Homo sapiens: one gene and its partner. The protein of the gene in region 1 interacts with the protein of each later gene in a biochemical or structural test. Each region holds a gene or a part of one and is shown on either strand. Other genes may lie near its edges.

Region 1 (3,822 bases):
CTCCCGAGTGGCTGGGATTACAGACATGTGCCACCACACCTGGCCAATTTTTGTATTTTTAGTAGAGATGGGGTTTTACCATGTTGGTCAGGCTGGTCTCGAGCTCCCGACCTCAGGTGATCCACCTGCCTTGGCCTCCCAAAGTGTTGGGATTACAGACATGAGCCACCAGGCCCAGCCTGGGTCCCACTTTCTTTTCTACAGAATGGCAATGCTGACCTGGGGTTAACACCTGAAGGCCCAGAACAGCACATGGCTTGTAGCAAATGTTGGCTCTTAACATTAAAAAAAAAAATTTTTTTTTTGAGACAGGTTCTCACTCTGTCACCCAGGGTGGGGTGCAGTAGTGTGATCATGGCTCAACTGCAGCCTTGAACTCCTGGGCTCAAGTGATCCTCCCATCTCAGCTTCCCAAGTAGCTGGGACCACAGGCATGCACCACCATGCCTGGCTATTTTTAATTTTTTGTAGAGACGAGTTTTCACCATGTTGCCCAGGCTGTTCTCAGACTCCTGGGCTCAACAGATCCTCCTGCCTCAGCCTCCTGAGTAGCTGGGACTAGGTGCATCCACCACGCCTGGCTAATTTTTGTACTTTTTGTCAAGACGGAGTCTCGCCATATTGCCCAGGCCGGTCTCCAACTCTTGGGCTCAAGCAATCCTCCTGCCTCAGCCCCACAAAGTGCTAGAATTATAGGAGTGTGCCACTGTGCCCTACCTCAGTTTCCCTTAATCACCGCTTTTTAAAGACCCTGTCTCTAAATACAGCCACATTCTTACCCCTGGGGATCAGGACTTCAACATAAGAATTTGGGGTTGAGGGGGCCATAATTCAACCTATAACAGCCTGGGATGAAAAAATGAGGCACAGACCAGGCGTGGTGGCTCACGCCTTACTCCCAGCACTTTGGGAGGCCGAAGCGTGCAGATCACTTGAGATCAGGAGTACGAGACCAGCCTGGCCAACATGGTGAAACCCTGTGTCTACTAAAAATTCAAAAATCAGCCAGGCGTGATGGTGAGTTCCTATAATCTCAGCTACTCGGGAGGCTGAGGCACGAGTATCACTTGAACCTGGGAGGCAAGAGGTTGCAGTGAGCCGAGATCGTGCCACCACGCTCCAGCCTGGGCAACAGAGCAAGGCTCTGTCTCAAAAAAAAAAAAAAAAACACCCTCCTTCAGATAAGTGTGAGGCTTAATCGGTTATTGTTTGTCTCCCCAGCTGGGACCAGGGCACAGGCTGCCTGCTTTGTGGCTGTGTCCAGTGCCCAGCAGGCAGCCTGGCACAGGGTAGATGCTTATTTTTTTAGTTTTTTGAGACAGAGTGTTGCTCTTGTTGCCCAGGCTGGAGTGCAATGGTGCGATCTCGGCTCACTGCAACCTCCGCCTCTCGGGCTCAAGCGATTCTCCTGCCTCAGCCTCCCGAGTAGCTGGGATTACAGGCATGCACCACCATGCCTGGGTAATTTTATCTTTTTAGTAGAGATGGGGTTTCTCCATGTTGGTCAGGCTGGTCTCGAACTCCCAACCTCAGGTGATCTGCCTGCCTCGGCCTCCCAAAGTGCTGGGATTACAGGTGTGAGCCACCGCGCCCTGCAGATAGATGCTTATTAAGTATTCAGGTGCTCCATGTCCGCTTCAGCCCAGTGGTTACAGAAGGGCCACCCTCGGGTACCACCTGCTTGTGTCTGGGTCTGTAGCATCAGAAATAGGTGATCCCTGGGTTGGAGGCAGGACAAGCCAGCCGCATCCCAGCATCCTTGGACTTTCCCTGAGACCACCTGCAGGGACAGGCAGCTTATTCATCCACTTGCTATTGAGTGCCTACTGTATGCCGGGGAGCTGTGCTGTCCCATCATGGTTAGACTTCCTCACCTCCCATTTATGCAGAAATGGCCTTAGCTGGGAAACAGCAGAGCGGTTGTCAACTTGCATTTTTTTTTTTTTTTTGAGACAAGGTCTTGCTCTGTAGCCCAAGCTAGAGTGCAGTGGCGTGATCTTGGCTCACTACAGCCTTGACCTCCTAGACTTAGGCAATCCTCCCAGCTCTCAGCCTCCTGAGAAGCTGGGACTACAGGTGTGCACCACCACACCTGACTAATTTTTTAATTTTTTGTAGGAATGGGGTCTTGCTATATTGCCCAGGCTGGTCTCAAACTCCCAGGCTAGCCAGGCACGGTGGCTCACGCCTGTAATCCCAGCACTTTGGGAGGCCGAGGCGGGCGGATCACGAGATCAGAACAACAGAGCGAGACTCCATCTCAGAAACAAAACAAAAAACAAACTCCTGGGCTCAAGCAATCCTCCTGCCTGCCTTGGCTTCCCAAAGTGCTGGGATTATAGTTGTGAGCCACTATGCCCAGCCATGCCTACACCTTATCAGCAAAGGCCAATAGTGGGCTTGGCTGAGGGGGGATGGAAACTGCTGAGCTTACAGGAAGATGGGAAACGTCAACCAGGAGCCCCCGTCTCAGGGCCAAGCCCTTGCTTCCCTTTCTCTCCCACTGATAGCGTAGGAGGCCAACAGTCTTTCTGTTTATAGAAGGGATAAGCTCAGGGTGAATTCTTCAAGGTCACTGAACAGAGCAGCAGCTGGGAGCTTTTTTTTTTTTTTTTTTTTTTTTTCAGATGGAGTCTCGTTCTGTTGCCCAGGCTGGAATGCAGTGGCGTGATCTCAGCCCACTGCAACCTCTGCCTCCTGGGTTCAAGTGATCCTCCTGCCTCAGCCTCCCAAGTAGCTGGGATTATAGGCGCCCATCACTACGCCCAGCAAATTTTTGTATTTTTAGTAGAGATGGGGTTTCACCATGTTGGCCAGGCTGGTCTCGAACTCCTGACCTCAGGTGATCCAGCTGCCTTGGCCTCCCAAAGTGCTGGGATTATAGGCGTGAGTCACCGTGCCCGGCCAATTTTTGTATTTTTTGTAGAGGTGAGGTCTTACTATGTTGCCCAGGCTGTTCTCACACTTCTGGGCCCAAGCGATCCTCCCACCTCAGCCTCCCAAAGTGCCGGGATGACAGGTGTGAGCCACCGTGCCTGGCCTGCTGTGAGCTCTTGACTTTTTGAGAGGTGCAATGCTCTCTCAATTCTGGGCCCTATGAGTTTTTTCCCCCTTTGTGAAGAGGTAACTTTCCCCAGGTTCTGGGGGACGGTGGTGTTGTCAGAGCTAGATTTTAATCCGGGCCAGTGTGAGAACGTGCGTGTTCACTGAGTAGTGGGGCTGTTAGAACCTGACTCTCATCGGGGGCGTTGGCTCATGCTGGCTCACACAGTGAAACCCCGTCTCTACTAAAAATACAAAAAATTAGCCGGCCGTGGCAGTGCACGCCTGTAGTCCCAGCTGCTGGGGAGGCTGAGGCAGGAGAACCGCTTGAACCTGGGAGGTGGAGGTTGCGGTGAGCCGAGATAGTGCCACTGCACTCCAGCCTGGGTGACAAGAGCAAAAACTCTGTAAAAAAAAACAAAAACAAAAACAAAAAACTTGACTCTCACACCCTCTTCCCCCACAAAAAGATGAACTCTCATGAGTACAAGAGGACTGAGTCTTCAGGGAAGCACCAACTTGGGTAGGAATGGGGCAGGTGTGGTTTTCAACTTTGCGGAGAGCCCTCTGCATAGAGATCTGTCTAAAGACTTAGCTTCAGCTGGACACAGTGGCTCATGTCGGTCATCCCAGCACTTTGGGAGGCCAAAGCAGGAGGACTGCTTGAGGCCAGGAGTTCGAAACCAGCCTGGGCAACATGGAGAGTCCTTGTCTCTACAAAAAATAAAAAAATAAGCCGGGTGTGGTGGTGCGTACCTGTAGTCTCAGCTACTTGGGAGG
Region 2 (2,760 bases), on another chromosome or scaffold:
ACTTGTTGTTTACTGAGCACTTAGCCATGTGCAGGCTACTATTCTACCATTATTCTCTGAAACAGCTGGGAAGGGCTCACTCTTCCCTTTTCTCAGGTCACAGTTGACTGTGAAGCTGGCACTCAAGCCCAAGTCTGACCCCAAAGCCCTTGCTCTGAACCGTTACTCTATGATAAGCCCCTCTCTGCTCATAGTAAGCCCCACCATTTGTTAGAGATGGGTAGGAGACCAAAGTTCGCATGTTGTTGTTGTTGTTGTTTTGGTTTTGTTTTTTTTTTTGAGACAGGATCTCGCTGTCACCCAGGTTGGAGTGCATGGGACCATCTTGGCTTACTGCAGCCTTGAACTCCCAGGCTCAAGCAATCCTCCCACCTCAGCCTCCCAAGTAGCTGAAATCACAGGTGCACACCACCATGCCTTGCTAATTTTTCTATTTTTTTGTAGAGACAGGGTCTCAACCACGTTGCCCAGGCTGGCTTCAAACTCCTGGGCCCAAGCAATCCACCTGTCTTGGCCTCCCAAAGTGCTGGGACTACAGGCGTGAGACACCATGCCCAGCCCACATGTTTCTCTTAACAACTTCAAACAGCCCTTCAGTGCACAGTGATGGTGTTCACTTAAGGCCTCTCTCCTACCAGGGACTTTCTCTACTACTCCCTCCACCTCTCTTCAGACACAGGTGCTGTTAACCAGGAAAGCCAGAGACAGAAACTGACTTACCTGGCTGTGAAATAAAGTATGAACCAACCACTGAGTAAATGGACTTTATTCTCTTCATTAAGAACATTATTTTGAATTTGTTCAAATTAATGTCAGCAGCAATGGAATTTTTAATATAATCTAGCACATTCTATCCACAAGATTCACTTGGGCAGTTCAAACACTTAAGGAACATGAGACTGCTGCTACTTGTGTGTTTTCAGGTAGAATGAAATAAACCTTAAATGAAAATGTGGTACTATATGTGTTCTTTAGAAGTCCTGTGGCAGGATTAAAAACTTTACTACACTACAAGAGCCAGCCTGTGGGGGGTGAGATTTCAGATGCCCGTTGACAGACAGCTACTTCTAGGTGCTGGTGGGAGCACAGTTCCTGGTTAATCCTTCTGCTTACATTTTTATTGTGAAAAATGTAAAACATGTACAAAATTTCTATATAATGAGTACAATACAATGAGCTCCCATGAACTCTAAACCCAGCTTCACAATTATCAACTTATGGCAAATCTTGTTTCCTCCATAACCCCTCCAACTCTCCCTTCTCCCCAGTTATTTCGAATCAGATTATATCATTTAATCTGTACTTTAGTATTAAATGGTTTTTAAGTATACTAAAATGTATATAAGAAGATAACTATTAGAGCAGCACTGTACAAGAGAATTTTATGCAACAATGGAAATGTCCAATATAGCAGCCACTTAGCCGCATGTGACTGTGGAACACTTGACATGAGGCTGATGGAAGTGAAAAACCGCATTTTAAATTTTATTCAATTTTAAATAAATAGCCACATTTAATGAGCCAATTGGAGAGCACAGATCTAGAGCAAATTTGGTCAATAACCTTAATAGGAAAGTAGGTATTATGAATCCCTCCATGGGAAGGCAATAAAGACATGAACAATAATTGTTATATTGACCAGGATGAATTTGTAAAATCACTGCAGTAAACATTATCTGGCTGTCTCCTGGTTATATGCAATGTGAGCAACTATAGTGTAACTGAACACTTACTGTAACATGTAGGAATTCTGCACTTCTAGCCACATGCTCCACTGTTCTGATAAAAACCTTGTAGTGGCTTGTATAGTGAGAAATCAAGTGAATGGGAAATACTATTAAAAAATGATGGGACATACCTTAGTCCCTACCTCTTACTGGTTCTTTCAAATTACTACTACAGGCCAGGCACGATGGCTCACACCTGTAATCCCAGCACTTGGGGAGGCTGAGGCGGGCAGGTCACTTGAGGTCAGGAGTTCGAGACCAGCCTGGCCAACATGGTGAAACCCCGTCTCTACTAAAAATACAAAAAAAAAAAAAAAATTAGCTGGACGTGGTGGCAAGCGCCTGTAGTCCCAGGTACTAGGCTGAGGCAGGAGAATCCCTTGAACCTGGGAGGCGTAGGTTGCCGTGAGCTGAGATTGCACCACTGCACTCCAGCCTAGGTGACAAAGCAAGACTCCATCTCAAAAAACAAAACAAATTAATACTACAGTAATTACTACTATAATTAATATTAATACAATTTAAACTGTCCAACACAAGTGTGTGGCAGTTAAGGTGCATACCTTTTGAGAGACTTTTTCAATTTCAAATGTATTGCTCAATATCCAGACTATTAATGTTAAAGAGGAAACTGCAACAGTCCCAAGCCCCTTACTTTCCTGACATAGGTAACAATGTGCTAAATTGGCTGCTTTAATTCTTTGGCATCTTGCTTCAACAACTTAAAAAGAAAAGATTGAAAACCATAAAAGCAAACCAACTATTTTGACATAGGGGAACCATCTATCTAATGTCTCCTCAGAATTCTTCAGCGGGTTGTTTCCCAGAGATCCAGGACTAAGTCCAACTTCTAAGGCAAGACACCTGGCCCCTGCTCTTGGCCAGCCTCACTCTAGCCACCTTCCCCTCACAGTCTCTGCTTCAGTCATTCTGAATGCACCATCACCCGGAACTAAAATTCAATTCCACTCACTCAGCACACCCCACACCCTCTTGCCTCCACCCTGGCATATGCTGCTCCTTGCTGGTGACC

Evidence for each region.
Region 2: the proteins of PLIN3 (region 1) and RAB9A form a complex in vitro, tested with the Homo sapiens proteins (one study listed by BioGRID).

The regions. Positions count from the first base shown.
Region 1 is NC_000019.10:4,854,052-4,857,873, reverse strand, and holds part of PLIN3 (perilipin-3), read left to right. Parts: intron 1-3,822. UniProt on the Homo sapiens protein: Structural component of lipid droplets, which is required for the formation and maintenance of lipid storage droplets. Required for the transport of mannose 6-phosphate receptors (MPR) from endosomes to the trans-Golgi network.
Region 2 is NC_000023.11:13,705,840-13,708,599, reverse strand, and holds part of RAB9A (ras-related protein Rab-9A), read right to left. Parts: intron 1-2,760. UniProt on the Homo sapiens protein: The small GTPases Rab are key regulators of intracellular membrane trafficking, from the formation of transport vesicles to their fusion with membranes.